Linked DNA regions of Homo sapiens: region 2 is linked to region 1. A link means that fine-mapping ties the variant in region 1 to the expression of a gene that starts in the linked region. Tissue or cell type: hypothalamus. Region 1 holds a variant in brackets; the other region holds the start of a gene. All regions are shown on one strand. Distances are between the middles of the regions.

What was found. PIP is the estimated chance that this variant, and not a neighbour inherited with it, causes the effect.
Region 2: PIWIL2 starts here. The variant in region 1 is fine-mapped to the expression of PIWIL2 in hypothalamus (GTEx, PIP above 0.99).

Annotation. Positions count from the first base shown.
Region 1 is chr8:22,308,210-22,316,209 of GRCh38, reverse strand. It overlaps PIWIL2 (piwi like RNA-mediated gene silencing 2), which reads right to left. Exons shown (of 23, transcript NM_018068.5): 15 at 6,136-6,249; 16 at 4,910-5,098; 17 at 1,781-1,882; 18 at 1,065-1,181. Among named protein-coding and RNA genes, the nearest start is that of PIWIL2, 37 kb to the right of the region's middle. The variant T/C (reference allele first, on the strand shown) is at 4,636.
Region 2 is chr8:22,271,182-22,280,220 of GRCh38, reverse strand. PIWIL2 (piwi like RNA-mediated gene silencing 2) reads right to left here and starts at 4,905. Exons shown (of 23, transcript NM_018068.5): 1 at 4,823-4,905; 2 at 637-880. The coding sequence starts at 834. PIWIL2-DT (PIWIL2 divergent transcript) reads left to right here and starts at 5,059. Exons shown (of 2, transcript NR_134293.1): 1 at 5,059-5,242. RefSeq lists an enhancer at 3,980-4,625.

The DNA.
Region 1 (8,000 bases):
GACCTGAGCAATGCATTCCTCCATTTTTAATTACTGTCTGAATCCCAAAGCAACCTCCCCTTACTGTTTATACATGAAAGTAAGTTCTGGGAAAGAAAAAAAAAAGACAATCAACTTGACATTTTTTAAACACAATAAGCACAGTTAAGATCTAGATCAGGGATCAGCAAAGGACTAAAGGGTAAATAACTTAGGCTTTGTGAGTCTTATGATTTCTGTAGAAAACACAGGTTGAGCATTCCCAAATCTGAAAAGCTTTTGAGCACCGACATGACACTCAAAGAGTTTCAGATTTTGGAGTGTTTCAGATTGCAGATTTTTGAATTTGGGATGCAAGCAAATGAACCCAAACCCCCAGAAATCTAAAATCCAAAATGCTTCTGGTCCCAAGTATTTCAGAAAAAGCATACTTGACCTTTATTTAATTCTATCTGCTTAACACAAAAGCAGTCATGGACAGTATGAAAAGGAGTATGGCTGTATTCCAGTGAAATTTTATTTAAAGACACTGAAAACTCACTTCATATAATTTTCATGTGTCACGGAATAATCATCTTAGTTTTATTTTTTCCGCCATTTAAAAACATAAAAACCAGGTTGGGCATGGTGGCTCACACCTGTAATCCCAGCATTTTGGAAGGCTGAGGTGGGCAGATCACCAGGTCAGGAGTTTGAGACCAGCCTGGCCAACATGGTGAAATCCCATCTGTACTAAAAATACAAAAATTAGCTGGGTATGGTGGCGGGCACCTGTAATCCCAGCTACTCAGGAGGCTGAGGCAGGAGAATTGCTTGAACCTGGGAGGTGGACGTTGCAGTGAGCCAAGATCGTGCCATCGCACTCCAACCTGGGCGACAAGAACAAGAATCCGTCTCAAAAACACAAAAAACAAAAAACAAACAAACATAAAACCCATTCTTAGATAATGGGCTGAAGAGGCAGGGAGCCATTTAGACTACTGAGTAAGTGTTGAGAAGAGGAAGCATAACGAATAAGGAAAAACAGGAAAACAGCTTGGAGGATTCTCTGGAGAGGCAAACTGAACCATCTCGGCATCACTCACCAGAGGAATATCCACTCCCCAGAGCTCACCACCCAATTTACAGTTAATCTGAAGTAAAATCTTCTGGGCCACACTCCGAAGCCTGGTGGGCTGACCAATGGTTCGAACATTGACAACCTATAATGAAGGGACCAAAAGGTGTCAGGAGAAGCAGGTCACTATCAACCTCTCAGAAAATCTGAACTCTAAAGTAAACATTACATTTGTTTAAGAAACTCAAGTTAGAAGATAACACATTTCGCATTAATAATTCTAATTCTAGGGTTTCTAGGCATGCATGCACATGGGCAAAATACAACACACACACACACACATACACACACACCACAAACCCAAAACAAAATAAAACCAACAAATGAAAACTTTCAAAAGGATCTCACGCAGAGTGGAATGCTTTTTTAACTCCCATAGGAAAAATAGCTTTCCCCTTTCAGAATGAAGCCTATATTCACTCTCAGAACTCAGTCACATGAAACCACCTGGTGACTCAACCTCGGAACAAGCGAAACTGTTCATTTGGAAGCATGAGGGCAGCTTATGAAGAGCAATCTACTCTTTGCCAGGTTGCTCTAATCAGGAGAACCTTTCACCAGAAGGCTCAGCACATACTGGCTTCTAACAGCTACTTTAGTCTTTGTGAACACACATATCCCTCTTCTCAAGCCTCGGGGAGGCGAGAGGTGCCATCTGCGCCTCCTGCCCCAACACCCACTCACCTGGGAGGGCACTGGGGACTGCACACAGCACAGCTTCTTGATGGCCCCATAGAGATCATCACGTGGGCCCATGATGATGCAAACAACCATCTGTATCTTCCCCTTGAGGAGATAAGGTATATACAAGTCAGGCTGTGGAATTCTCTGGGGACTTTTACAGGACTCTAGTTGGCAGTATTCTGAGTATGCAAAGCCATAGGACCTTTAAGGAAGACAGGGAACTGAAATAAAGAGGGTGGACATTCCAACCAGAACAAGGTCCTTGGAGCTGAATTAGCATTCTTTGGCTCAGGGCTGTTCTGTATAGATAGGTAATATGTTACTATTAATTACCCAGAGCTGGCCCTGATTACCAAAAGATTTATCTATTAGAAGACTCAGATGGCTGGAAAAGGACCAGGTTTGAATGCATGCAAGGTTTACATTACTTGCTGCTTCCAATTCAGTATAATGTTTTTTACTACTCTCTTTGGTTTACTAAACAACTTATTACACTCATACCACAGAACTTTAACCAAGGAAACAGGGAATGCAATACTACAAGAAAGCATTCAGAACTAAATGCAAACTGGAATGAAGCTATTGCCAAATTCATGAGCAGCCACTCCTAACTCTGGTGAAGAGACAGAATGATATTGTCAGCAGCACAGCATGTCAGTATCATCTATTCCTCACTGCTGAAGGAATCCAATATTGAAAAAAGAGGACCTTTCAAAGCCTGAATAAAGAAAAGCAGCACTCAAGTGAAAGAAGGTTGCCAACCCTTTAAGCCAGAAACTGCTACAAATGGTAAATCAGTGGTACCCTACTCCAAATCAAGATTGGTGTAATGTTAAGACTGTTCAGAGGACACATTGAGCAACGACACCAAGCATTTCCAAAGGCATGAGAACAGAGCTGCGCACTGGGAGCCTATGGACTGGACACAGCAAACAGGTGCGTTTTTTCAGGCCCTACAATGACTTAAAAGTGTTTATGTTTGTTTAAATTAACATTTAAACATAGGAAGATACACACATATGCAATTCCAGGTTTTTGGCCTTTACCAACAAACAAGCACATTAAGAATCATTTTGGCAATCCTGGGTTTATATCTCCAGTCACAGGAGTTACCCTCTTTAGTTCATTTCACTCCCCTCCTGGCCCACTTCACTCATTTATACTCCTTATCAGGCTCCTGGAGACATACGAGTTTGTGATTCCTCATAGAGATGATAATGGAATGCCTTAAAGATGAACAGACAGAGCAAGGCCGCTATGAGATAAGTTGGTAAGCGATATGAATGAAATTCACATCCATGCCACATGAAAACTGTCAGTTGTACCCTCTCAAAAAGGGAACACAAGTTGTGAAATGGGGGAGCTGATGTACTGGGCTGGGTTATTCTTTTGAAAGCAGAGCAGAACTTATCTATGATCAGGTCTGAGGGAGGCCATGGTAGAGTATGACAGGCATGGTAGATCAGGATGGAATTATAGAGAATGCACAGGCTGGGTGCAGTGGCTCACACCTGTAATCCCAGCACTTTGGGAGGTGGAGGTGGGAGGACTGATTGAGGCTGGGAGTTTGAGATCAGCCTGGGCAACAGAAGGAGACCCCATCTCTACAAAAAATTTAAAAATTAGCCAGGAGTGGTGGTGCACGTGTACAGTTACAGCTACTCAGAAGGCTGAGGCAGGAGGATCCCTTGGGCCCTCAAGTTTCATGTTACAGTCAGCTATGATCATGCCACTGTACTTTAGCCTGAGCAACAGAGTCAAGACTTTGTGTCTAAAAAAAGAGAGAGAGAAACACACCAAAGAAAGAACACAAGTGTGCTGTTGTGAATGATACACCAAGAGTGCCAGATCAAAAACAGAATGCTGCTGGGCATGGTGACTCACGCCTGTAATCTCACTGCTTTGGGAGGTTGAGGCAGCAGGATCACTTGGGGCCAGAAGCTCGAGACCAGCCTGGGCAACATAGTGAAACCCTACCTCTATAATTTTTTTTTTTAATTAGCCAGGTGTGATGGCCCACGCCTGTAGTTCCAGCTACTTGGAAGGCTGAGGCGGAAGGATTGCTTGAGCCCAGGAGTTTGAGGCAACAATGAGCTAAGATCGCACCAGTGTACTCCACATGGGTGACAGAGTAAAATCCTATCTCATTTTTTTTTTTTTTTTTGGAGAAAAGGTCTCACTCTGTTGCCCAGGTTGGAGTAAAGTGGCATGATCATAGCTCACTGCAGCCTCAACCTCCCCAGGCTCAGGTGATTCTCCCACCTCAGCCTCCTGAGTAGCTGGTACTACAGGTGCATGCCACCACACCCAGCTAATGTTTAGATTTTTTGTAGAGACAGGGTTTTGCCAGGTTGCCCAGGCTGGTCTCAAACTCCTGGGCTCAAGCAACCCGCCCACCTCAGCATCCCAACGTGCTGGAATTCCAGGCGTGAGCCACTGTGCGCCCAGCTGACCCAATCTCTCAAAAAAAAATTTAAAAAAAGAACTCTATGATGCCAAGATGATTGAATTCTAGGATTGAACTCACCAGAACAATTTACCAGAATGTTCAATTCAAGGGCTAATTACTTCCAAAAGCCTTCCCCTTGCTTTTTTCTCTCCCTATTCCTCTTGTTCGATTTTATTTACAAACAGGTAAGAACTGAAAAGCCTGAATAACTAAGTTGTGAGTGCTATGACCTGGCCAGCTCTAGTGTTCCTGATCAGTCATCAGGACCCAATCAATGGGCCATCTGCCAAGTTCATCACCAGAGTAATTTTAATCTTGAACCAGGCCGGACTGAGGCAGCTCAGTAGTGAATCGTGCAAGACGGCACCTAACCCAAGCTGCTGCTTTCTGAGCACAACATGTTCTA[T/C]AGATAATGAACCACAGTTAAGTCAGCTATTCTCTCAGCCAGTTACGTAAGAAAAAGAAGACTAGAGTAAGTGAGGGTGCCAACACAGAGTGAGAGAAGCAAAATTAACCAAAGGGCATAAAGAACACTTTTCAATCAGTATTTCATGTGCGCATGGGTAAGACAAGTTCTAGGGCATCATCAACAGCAGACTGATAACCATGATACATTAAAATTAAGTATTTAAGTAATTTAAAATGGACATCCTATAAATTTATTTGAATTACATTTTTACCTCAGCTCCTAACGTGGATTGAATGGTTCTGACATAAGTCTCTATTCGGTCATCCTTTAGTTCAACCCAGGCCGGTGGGCTCATACGCATGCCAATGGGGCCGGCTATCTTCTCCAACATGTTGACCAGTTCTCGAGCCTGGTCCATTGCTCTCTTTGGGTAAAAAAGTGCCCAGAAATGCATGGGGATCTAGGAACAACCAAGAGCTTTTAGTATTTCTCACAATTTAAATATCCCAAACTCATACTTAAGATTTCATTCTAGAGAATAAATTACTTTTCACTCTCATTGCTTGAATCCTGTCTTATCTAACTCCTGTATTAACATGAACGTACATGATAAGAAAACTGTGGCGTAGTCTCAAAATGGAATGTTATACAGTAATGAGAATGGAAGAGCAACAACCATGCCTAACAACAGGATGAAACTCACTAACACAAATTTAAGAAAAGAAGCCAGACACAGAAGAATATATAATCTATGATTCCATGTATATGTAAAGTACAGAAATTGGTAAAATCAATCTGTGCTGTGAAAAGTCAGGACAGTGGCTATACTGGGTGTGTGAGGGGTAAGGGATAGGCAGGAACTGGGAGAATGGAGGGGGCTTCTGGAGTGCTGGTAAAGTTCTGCATCTTAACCCTTGGTGTGGATTACACAGGTCTATTTAATTAAAAAAAAACTCATCAAGTTACACGTTTATAAGTGTGCTTTTCGTTTATATTTCAATAAAACATTTAAAAACATGCATTTTATATATCTGTTTTTATATATCTGGCCATGAAGTCCATGTTGGTCAAAAACACTGAGAAGTAATTATATGCCATTTTGTACCTTGATACAAATAGCTAGTGTATTATTAGTTCCCTAGGTGAGGTACTGTTTTAATCTAACTTCTTTCACGGATACAAATACCCTCTAGATACTCCCGGGGAAAAAGAGGGGGAAAAGAGAAAGAAAGAAGGGAGAGTGGGTAACAGGTTGGCACTATGTGAATTACCACAGCAATTTATTTCCTTTCCCTAAGTCTATGGTCAGGCAAAGGGCTTACCTCTAACAACTCATCAACTGCTCTGTTTGAAGGATCCCTGGTTAGTAGGTAATTCAGAATGGGGATTCAATTGGTACTTTCCCTCAAAAAAGAAGACTCTAGATCATTCCTGCTTCCTAATTCCCACACTTTGGGGAATACTGGTCCTCTCTTTATCACTTCAAAAATCACTTACAGTCAAGATGGAAGGGTCTCTGGTTACTTCCTTAACCCAGTTTAGTTCCTGAGATGTGATAAACGAAGTATTTTTTAAGTTAATTCTTTCCATTGGCAGAACACGTCCTTCAATCTAAACAGAAAATAAACCATCTATGACATGAGCCTTTTCAAACGCTATTTAGAAAAACACTGCTACTGCTCTATAAGGCCTGCTCAGCTCCACCACAGACACTTGTCCCTGTTAGAACTTTTGAGACTAGCAGAATAATAAAGCTTCTAGCAGTGAAAGTCCCTGTCAATAAAAACCTACATTTATATAGGTAAAATTATTATAGGTACTAGTCTTTCATTATTGAAGCTTCCACATGATATCCCAAGAAAGGGATTTGAAAACATTGTCTATTTAGAATGACTGAATAAAGGAAAACAATCTTCAAAAAATATTTTAAAGGGGCCGGGCACCGTGGCTCACGCCTGTAATCCCAGCACTTTGGGAGGCCGAGGAGGGCAGATCACTTGAGGTCAGGAGTTTGACACCAGCCTGGCCAACATGGTGAAACCCTGTCTCTACTAAAAATACAAAAATTAGCTGGGTGTGGTGGCGCATGCCTGTAGTCCCCAGCTACTTGGGAGGCAGAGGCAGGAGATTTACTTGAATCCGGGAGGAGGCTGCAGTGAGCTGAGATCACACCACTGCACTCCAGCCTGGGTGACAGGGCAAGACTCTGTCTCAAAAAAACTTTTTTAAATAAATAAATAAAATATAAGTATTAAAAACATAAATGTCCCTAAATTATTTTACCTTCATAAATTGGACTTAATATCCAAGGGGGCCGGGTGTGGTGGCTAACACCTGTAATCCCAGCACTTTGGGAGGCCAAGGCGGGTGGATCACGAGGTCAGGAGTTCAAGACCAGCCTGGCCAAGATGGTGAAACCCCGTCTCTACTAAAAATACAAAAATTAGCCGGACGTGGTGGCACGTGCTTGTAATCCCAGCTACTTGGGAAGCTGAGGCAGGAGAATCGCTTGAACCTGGGAGGTGGAGGTTGCAGTGAGCCGAGATTGCGCCATTACACTCCAGCCTGGCCAACAAGAATGAAACCCCATCTTAAAAAAACAGAAAAAAGAAAATAAACAAGGGCTAGCGTGGTGGCTCACACCTGTACTCCTAACACTTTGGGAGGCTAAGGTAGGCGGATCATTTGAGGTCAGGAGCTCGAGAGACCAGCCATGGCAACATGGTGAAACTCCGTCTCTACTAAAAATACAAAAATTAGCCAGGCATGGTGGTGTGCGCCTGTAATTCCAACTATTCGGGAGGCTGAGACAGGAGAATCACTTGGAATCCGTCTCAAAAAAATAAATAACACACACAAAGATTCAGTTGTAAGGATGTACACTGCATCGTTATTTTTTTAAATTAGTTAATTTTTTTTGAGATGGATTCTCCCTCTGTCTCCCAGGCTAGAGTGCAGTGGCCCCATCTTGGCTCACTGCAACCTCCACCTCCCGGGTTCAAGTGATTCTCCTACCTCAGCCTCCTGAGTAGCTGGTATTACAGGCTCGTGCCTCGACACTCAGCTAATTTTTGTGTTTTTAGTAGATATGGGGTTTTACCATGCTGGCCAGGCTCTTCTCGAACTCCTGACCTAAGGTGATCCACCTGCCTCAGCCTCCCAAAGTGCTGGGATTACAGGCGTGAGCCACCACGCCTGCCCTGCATCATTATTTATAATAGAAAAATACTAAATTCAATTTGAATGTAAAAGGATAGAAAACCGTTAATAAAAAGTATCAGGCAGCCATTAGAAATACTTAGAAAAATATGACCACGCACAGAGGTTCATACCTGTAATCCCAATAAGACTCTGTCTCAAAA
Region 2 (9,039 bases), 37 kb after region 1:
TCTAAATATTCAGAAAACAACAAGAGATTGTACCTTTAGACCTAACAATTACAGATGGAGGGATGGAGGGATGATCGGAAGCTAGAGGACCTATGGTACTTACCAAGTCCATCTAGCGCTCATTATGAGGTACTTCTTCATACCTCTAGAAACTCTAGATTTGAAATATTTGCCCAGATGTATCTACTTGTTAAAGAAAAAAAAAGACAACCTTGTTTCTGTTTAGGGCTTCCCAGTTTTGCAAGCACTTTGTTGTCATTGTTTGAGATGGAGTCTCGCTCTGTTGCCCAGGCTGGAGTGCACTGGCGAGATCTCAGCTCACCGCAACCTCCGCCTCCACGGTTCAAGCAATTATCCTGCCTTAGCTTCCTGAGTAGCTGGGATTACAGGTACCCGCCACCACACCTGGCTAATTTTTGTATTTTCAGTAGAGACAGGGTTTCACCATGTTGGTTGGCCAGGCTGGTCTTGAACTCCCGACCTCAGATGATCCACCTGCCTCGGCCTCCCAAAGTGCTGGGATTACAGGCGTGAGCCACCGTGCCCAGCCCTGCAAGCACTTTGAAATCCATTACTTCCTCTGACGGCACACAGGTAAGCTGTATGCCACTCCTATGCATCCGGAAGTGGTCTTACCCTTTGTGCTGGCCCCCTCTGTGTGCTTGGTTCCTCTGGCTTTCCAAATACATGGCCTCTGCCTGCAGGTGCTCCCCTGCCCAGAGCTGGGTCCAAAGGTTTAGAAGCTTGTGGCCAACAGCCTGGCATCCGTACAGCCTGGCACTGGGATGGGTGGATAGGAGACTGGCCCCTGAACGATGGTCGGAAAGGATCCATGGACGGGCTGTAGAGAACACGTGTCGATCCTGTTCTGGTTAATTACCTGCCATCATTTTCAAAAGATTAAGATTCCCAATTGTTTTCCTTTTCCTTCAAGACACACTCACAAAGCATTAAAATAGTATTTTGAGTCAGTCCAGTAACACGCCTAGCCTTCTACAACATATTCACTTCAAAGGCTTCTATTTGATCTGTAATATTCTAAACATCCTTCATTAACAATCCCTCAGAGCAGTGGTCCCCAACCTTTTTGGCACCAGAGACTGGTTTCCTGGAAGATAATTTTTCCATGGACCCAGGGGTGGGGGGATGGTTTCAGAGTGACTCAAATACATTACATTTATTGTGTACTTTATTTCTATTATTACATTATAATAGATAATGAAATATAATAATTATACAATTCACCATAATGTAGAATCAGTGGGAGCCCTGATCTTGTTTTCCTGCAACTAGCTGGTCCCATCTGTGGGTGATGGGAGACAGTGACAGATCATCAGGCATTAGATTCTCATAAGGAGGATGCAACCTAGATCCCTCCAATGCGAAGTTCACAAGAGGGTTTGCACAATGAGAATCTAATGCCACCAGTGATCCGACAGGAGGCAGAGCTCAGGTGATACTACAAGCCATGGGGAGCAGCTGTCAATACAGATGAAGCTTTGCTCATTTGCCAATCTCTCACCTCCTGCTGTGCAGCCCAGTTCCTAACAGGCCCCCCAACCAGCCTGTGGCCTGGGGGTTGGGAACCCCTGCCTTAGAGGCCCGTGTCCTCCTTGAACTTACTTATATTTTCTACCCAAATAGCCTCTCACAAAACTCAGTCCTGTGAGTTAACTAGCTGTTGTATAAGGAAGCAGTTTTTTAGGAGGGTCTCCTTCTGTCGCCCAGGCTGGAGTGCAGTGGCATGATCATGGCTCACTGCAGCCTTGACCTCCTGGGCTCAAGTGACCCTCACATCTCAGTCTCCTGAGTAGCTGGGACTACAGGCATGCACCACAACACCCAGCTAATTTGTACATTTTTTGTACAGACGGGGTCTTGCCACGTTGCCAAGGCTGGTCTCAAACACCTGGGCTCAAGAGATCTGCTGCCTCAGCATCCCAAAATGCTGGGATAATAGGTGTGAGCCACTGCACCTGGCTAAGGCAGTTTTTATGTATGAGGATGACTTTGGTTTATAAACAATTTCTTTTCCTCCCCCCCTTTTTTTTTTAGACGGAGTTTCACTCTTATTGCCAAGGCTGGAGTGCAATGGTGCAATCTTGGCTCACCGCAACCTCTGCCTCCTGGGTTCAAGTGATTCTCCTGCCTCAGCGTCCCGAGTAGCTGGGATTACAGGCATGCAGCACCATGCTCGGCTAATTTTGTATTTTTAATAGAGACGGGGTTTCTCTATGTTGGTCAGGCTGGTCTCGAACTCCCGACCTCAGGCGATCAGCCCACCTGGGCCTCCCAAAGTGCTGGGATTACAGGTGTGAGCCACTGTGCCTGGCCTATAAACAATTTCATAGTTAACACAGCCATATCATAAAATTATTGTCAACAAATATTTATGGGTTTTTGCTTTGTTTTTGGCCTCTCTTTCCTACATAAGAGTCCTAACTTTTTTCCAGTCTATGATTGCACCAAATTCTCTTCCTTGATCTGTTTAGCTGCTTCTCCGAATCTCTATCCAATTCTTTTTTACAAAATTCTTCCTTCAGGCTGAGCACACACACACAGTGGTTCATGCCTGTAATCCCAGCACTCTGGGAGGCCCAGGTGGGAGGACCATTGAGGCCAGGAGTTTGAGGCCAGTCTTAGGAACACAACGAGACCCTGTCTCTACAAATAATTAAAAAATAGAAAAAAAAATTTTAAAAACTCTCTTCTTTCAAACTCCATCAGAAGTCTCCAGAGTACACAGTCTTTCTGCTTTGAGCCTACAATACTTGCTCAGTCTCACAGGTTGCATTTAACACCCTTCTCTCTCCCAGGTTACCCGGGGTGAGGCTCTCCCTGGCTTCCCTACCAAATCTAAAGCCCATCAGGTCTCTTCAAAATCACTTCATAACCTGTAGGTCGGGCATGGTGGCCCATGCCTGTAATCACAGCACTTTGGGAGGCCGAGGCGGGTGGATCACTTGAGATCAGGAGCTCAAGAGCAGCGTGGCAAACATGATGAAACCCTGTCTTTACTAAAAATACAAAAATTAGCCAGGCATGGTGGTGCATGCCTGTAATCCCCCCTCCTCAGGAGTCTGAGGCACAAGAATTGCTTGAACCCAGGAGGCGGAGGTTGCAGTGAGTCAAGATCGTGGCACTCCAGCCTGGGTGACAGCACAAGATTCTGTCTCAAAAAAAAAAATATATATATATATATCACTTTATAACCTACAGATTTCAAGACTCCCTCTTTAAGGGGCTCCTCTCATTGTCCTGACTTGCCCCTGATTCCTGAAAAATATTTCTTAACGGAAAAGAATTTTTTTTTTTTAAGAGACAGGGTCTTGTTCTGTCATCCAGGCTACAGTGAAGTGGTGGCATCTTAGCTCACTGCAGTCTCAACCTCCTGTGCTCAAGCAGTCCTCTTGTCTCAGCCTCCCAAGTAGCTAGGACTTCAGGCACCTGCCACCATACCCAGCTAATTTTTAAAAAAAATTTGTAGAGACGGGATCTTGCCATGTTGCCCAGGCTGGTCTCAAACTGCTGACCTCAAGTGATCCTCTCACCTCAGACTCCCCAAATGCTGGGAGAAGCCTCTTCTTAACTTTCAAAAAGCTGTCTTGGCCGGGGGTGGTGGCTCGCGCCTGTAATCCCAGCACTCTGGAAGGCCAAGGTGGGCAGATCACAAGGTCAGGGGTTCGAGACCAGCCTGACCAAAATGGTGAACCCTCATCTCTACTAAAAATACAAAAATTAGCTGGGCATGGTGGCCTGCGCCTGTAATCCCAGCTACTCGGGAGGCAGAGGCAGGAGAATCGCTTGAACCTGGGAGGCGGAGGTTGCAGTGAGCAGAGATCACGCCACTGCACTCCAGCCTGCGCTACGGAGCGAGACTCCGTCTCAAAACAAACAAACAAACAAACAAAAAAGCTGTCTTAAGTATTAGCTACAGAGAAATCATACATTTAAAGAAAATATTAACACACAATTCATAAACCCACAGCGTAAGTGCAGACAGTTCAGGAACTTGCAAAATTTATTGAACTAAACTATCCTCTTTCACACTCTAAACGCAGGATATGACTCCCTTTCTTGAAGGCTATATTTAACTGCTAACACCCCTTTTCGGTGAGCCAGGACTCTGCTCACACCTCCCCAACACCACCCAAAGAATCCCAAGCAATCAGTATGCTAACAGCTACATACTCAGAAGCGCTGGACGGCCTCCCTTAAGGGACATCTGGAATCTTCCTCTTTGTCCACGCTTCCCTCAACCTCCAGCACCACTTCTATAGATTCAGGTAGCTCCCCCAGAGGGCCCTCTCCCAGTGTGGGTTTCCCCCTGGGATCAGGTAGCAGATACTTGGCTGTCCGAAAGGTTCAATGGGGAGCGAACCCAGGACGGGCTGGGCCTGCCTCCCTCGCATCCCTGGGTGCGTGCTCCGCGCTGAGGCCTCGCGACTCGGGCCTAACCAGAAGCAAGGCCCCCGAAGGCGAGTCCCATCCCCTTTCCACCCCGAGAAAAGCACCTTTCCCCAAAGCCACAGCCCTGCCAGGGGTTCTATCTCCTCTCTCAGGCCAAATAAGACGTCCACTTGGGCCTCCGGAGGGCCTCCCCTGCCGCCCCAACCTGGACACCTTCTTGGGGCCGCGGCGCCGGGCCTCGAATAACGACTTCCCGCCCCCGCCCGACCCGCAACCCTCAGCAGCTCCCCGAAGTGGGAGGGGAGAGGCCCGGGAGGGCGGCTCACCCCACGTGCTTGAGCAAAAACCCAACCTGCCCGCCCCCGAGCGACCCTGGCCTGCCTGGCATGCCGCAACCGGGGCCAGTACTCACCTGTGCGCGAGTCCTCGCCCCAGTCGCCCAGCTCCGCGCGGCCTCAGGGGAAGACCGAGCTCAACCCACGCCCCGGGGCCCACATGCTCCAGGGCCAATTTCCGCTCTTCGAGGCCTCCGGGGATGAGCCCATTGGCCACAAGACCTGTCGTTCACAAGAGCAAGCTATCTAATTGGCCCATCTGCAAGAGAGGCTCGTCCTTTCCAGCAGGTTCCCTGTGCAGGGGCGGTTCGTGCGGAAGGAGCGCTGGGAGTTATGTGAACCTCAGCGTTAAAATGTGTTAGGGTTTGGAGATCCTGACTCCCTTTCTGGGGGCAACTCCTATAAACAGATTTAGCCTAAGACTCGCGTGTTGAAATTGACTTGCCCCATTCCTGCCAGTTAAGAGGATTAGCGATACAGGTGGTGAAAAAGAAACGGTAAGCTCGAGTGCGCATTCAAACACCTAATTCATATGATTTCTGCACATCACTTTCGTTATACATAAAACAGAGATAAAAACTAAAAACATCCATTCATAGGGTTGAATGGAAATGTACACACATAATGACATAACGTATGTAAAATACTTAGCACAAGGAGAAGACGACCCTCGATAAATGTTGCCTATTTTTATTGATGCCTAAATCTGTGAGCCAAGAAGAGCTTTCTAGGAAGCAGATTAAATTATCAGTGGTTACTTCAGCAACTACAGAATGATTTTACCCAAAGAAAGATTTCTGACCCTCTCCCAACCATTTTGTCAAATAACTGCATCCCTCTCCCACACCCAGGTTTTACAGTGTGGTTGAGGTAAAGCTTCTGAAGGCTTTGGCGGATGCTATAGAGACATCCAAGGGCTCTGCATGGAATAGGACTAGAGAAGGGTTAACCTTATTTTTTCCAGGCCTCAGATATCCCATGACTTATTTTAATCCACACATACAAGGGCCCTCCCTATCCTTCCCGAATGAGGATAGTCTGAAAATTATTGGAGCAGGATGATTTTCAACTCAGGAATCCAGTTGGCACGATGCCCCTTCACTGTTCCTAGATAGTATTTGTTTACCATGATCTAACATTTTCACTTCCTTTACCACACAACCTTCTTAACTTGCAGCTGTTGCAATGTTATGTTGTAAGCAATTCTCCTGCCTGTGCAAATACTTAATGGTAGCAAGTGCAGTCAAAAACAGTTATACAAACTGTTTTGTAACTTTCGTGAAGATCCAACTCCTTGTTCTTTTAGGAACTCCGACCAAACTTTGCATGACACACTTATTCTATACACATGAAACAATATTTTGGGGGCAGGATTCAGCAAATCTTCTAGTTGAAGTAAGGGAATAATAATCCTCAGATAATTTCCTGAGTATGTCTTCTATTTGGGAACCTAAACCAAGAGCACCATTACAAAGGGTATGCACATTGGGTTTCCTAGATTTCTATATCCTGTCCATCCATGCAAGTGTAGGTGGCCTTCGTACAGTATTTCTAGCTAATCCAGACATCATTAACACTACTTATTTAACCAAAGGAAAATCCATATAGTCCTGCTGTTGATTGGACATAAAAATGGTTGAAGCTTTCTGAAACGTGGACATCTATTTAGGACCTTTCAAAAGCTAATCAACCTCTTTTGGAGATTATATTCCCTAACAGAGTACTTTAATTGTTAATTAGCCATCCCTAGGATATTGATTAAAAAGGACACACATAATCTCATCACAAAAAGATGAGTATGTGAGGTGATGGATATGTTAATTTGGTTTAATCATTCCACAATGTAAATAAATATCAGAATATCATACTGTACCACATAACCATATGTAATTGCTATTTGTTAATTAAAAATGAAAGGGGCAAAAAGAGCACGTATATCACACTAAGAGATAGTATTTTGAGATAAATCACAGATTTTTTTTTTAACTCAAAAAAGTCGTAACACCAAATTCTGTCCACCTGGCCCTGCCAGTCTCTAAAATTCAGAGTGAAAATGGCCCCATAACTATACATAACCTGAATTTTCCTAGGCAGTCATGACTCCAAATACCCTGGGCACTTGGTCACCATAAATATTTCTATTCCAACCATGTATTCTGGTTTGTTGTTGTTGTTGTTGCTGCTGTTCAGAAAATAAGATCCCCAGAGCCACAGCAAGATTAAGGGCAGAAAATTACATTACTGGTGGGGCCTAAAACCTATAGGAAGGATTTCATTTAAAGTAGACCTATGTAGTATGTCTGGGTTCCTGGCAGAGATAACTAGAAATCCTTTCAGGAGAAATACACCAGGCTCCCAAAACTCCCACGTAAAAGGTATGAATAAATATGAGCTCACGAAACACATCAGGCCGAATAACAGGAGGACACACAATCTAATAAAAAAATGGGCAAAAGGTATGGTGGCTCACATCTGTAATCCCAGCACTTTAGGAGGCCAATGTGGGCAGATGGCCTGAGGTCAGGAGTTCGAGACCAGCCTGGCCAACATGGTGAAATGCTGTCTCTACTAAAAACATAAAAATTAGCCAGGCATGTTGGTGTGGTGCCTGTAATCCCAGCTACTCGTGAGGCTGAGGCAGGAGAATCACTTGAACCCGGGAGGCGGAGGTTACAGTGAGCTGAGATCACGCCACTGCACTCCAGCCTGGGCAACAAGTGCAAAACTCTCTCTCAAAAAAAAAGGGGGGGGGGCCAAAAGATGTGAGTGGACCTGTGTCAGTCCATTAGTCCCTTTAGTGTTACTATAAAGGAATACCTGAGGCTGGGTAATTTATAAAGAAAAGAGGTTTATCGAGCTCATGGTTATGCTGGCTGGAAGGTTCAAGACTGGACACCTGGTGAGGACCTCAGGGTGCTTCCACTCATGGCAGAAGGCAAAGAGACCCGGCCTGTGCAGAGATTACATGGAGAGAGAGGAAGCAAGAGAGGGGAGGGAAGCGCTAGGTTCTTTTTAACAACCAGCTCTTGTTGGAACTAATAAGCCCTTTAGTAGAGACAGGGTTTCACCATATTGCCCAGGCTGGTCTTGAACTCAGTGGCTTATGGGTGTGAGCCACCACCCCTGACTGGAGCCGTAAAATTTAATGGAATTTGTCCTTCAGTATCTGCAGAGTATTGGTTTTTAGGACCTCCCTCCATGGATACCAAAATTCACAGATGCTCAAGTCTCTTATATAAAATGGTGTATTTTATATTTGCATATAACCTATGCACATTTCCCTGTATACTTTAAATTGTCTCTAGATGAATTATAATACCAAATACAGTGTAAATGCTACATAAATAGTTGTTACACTGTATTGTTTAGGGAATAATTACAAGAAAAAAGTCTGCACCTGTTCAGTACTGATGCAGCCATCCTTTTTGTTTTTTCCAAATATTTTTGATTTGTGGTTGGTTTAATCCATGGATGCAGAACCCGTGGATAGGGAGGGCCTATTGTATTTAGATGAGATCTTAGACTTGCAATTGATACTGAAACGGTGTAAGACTTTGGGGGCTGTTAGGATGGGGCGAATGTGTTGCATGTGAGAAGAACATGAATTTGCGGGGGACAGAGGGAGGAATGTTAGGGAGTGAATTGTGTCCTCCTTGCAAAACCTATGTTGAAGCCCTAATCCCCTGTATTTGGAGATAAAGTATGTAGGGAGATAATTAACATAAATGAGGTAAGGAGGAGCTCTAATCTGATAGGATTTGTGTCCTTATCAGAAGAGAAAGACATGAGATCTTTCTCTATCTCTATCCCTCTCTCTTCATGGAAGCACAGAGACAAGGCCATGTGAGGACACAGCAAGATGGCGGCCATCTATAAACTAGGGAGATGGTACTCACCAGAAATCAAATTTGCCAGCACCTTGATCATAGAATCATAGTCTCCAGAGCTGTGAGAAAACAAATGTGTGTTGCTGAGGCCACCCAGTCTGTGGCAATTTGTTATGGCAGGCCTGTCTGACTAATAGAATAACAGAAGTCAGCAAGGATGTGGTGGAACAGGAACCCTCAGACATTGCCAGTGGGAATGTAAAATGATGCAGCCTCTTTGGGAAACATTTGGCAGTTTCTCAAAAAGTTAAGAAAAAAATTACTGTAGGAACCAAAATTTCACTTCTTGGTAGCTACCTAAGAAAAATGAAAACATGTCCACACAAAACTTGCATGCAAATGTTCATAGCAGCATTATTGATAATTGCCAAAAACTTCACCTAAATGTCCATCAACTGGTAAATGAA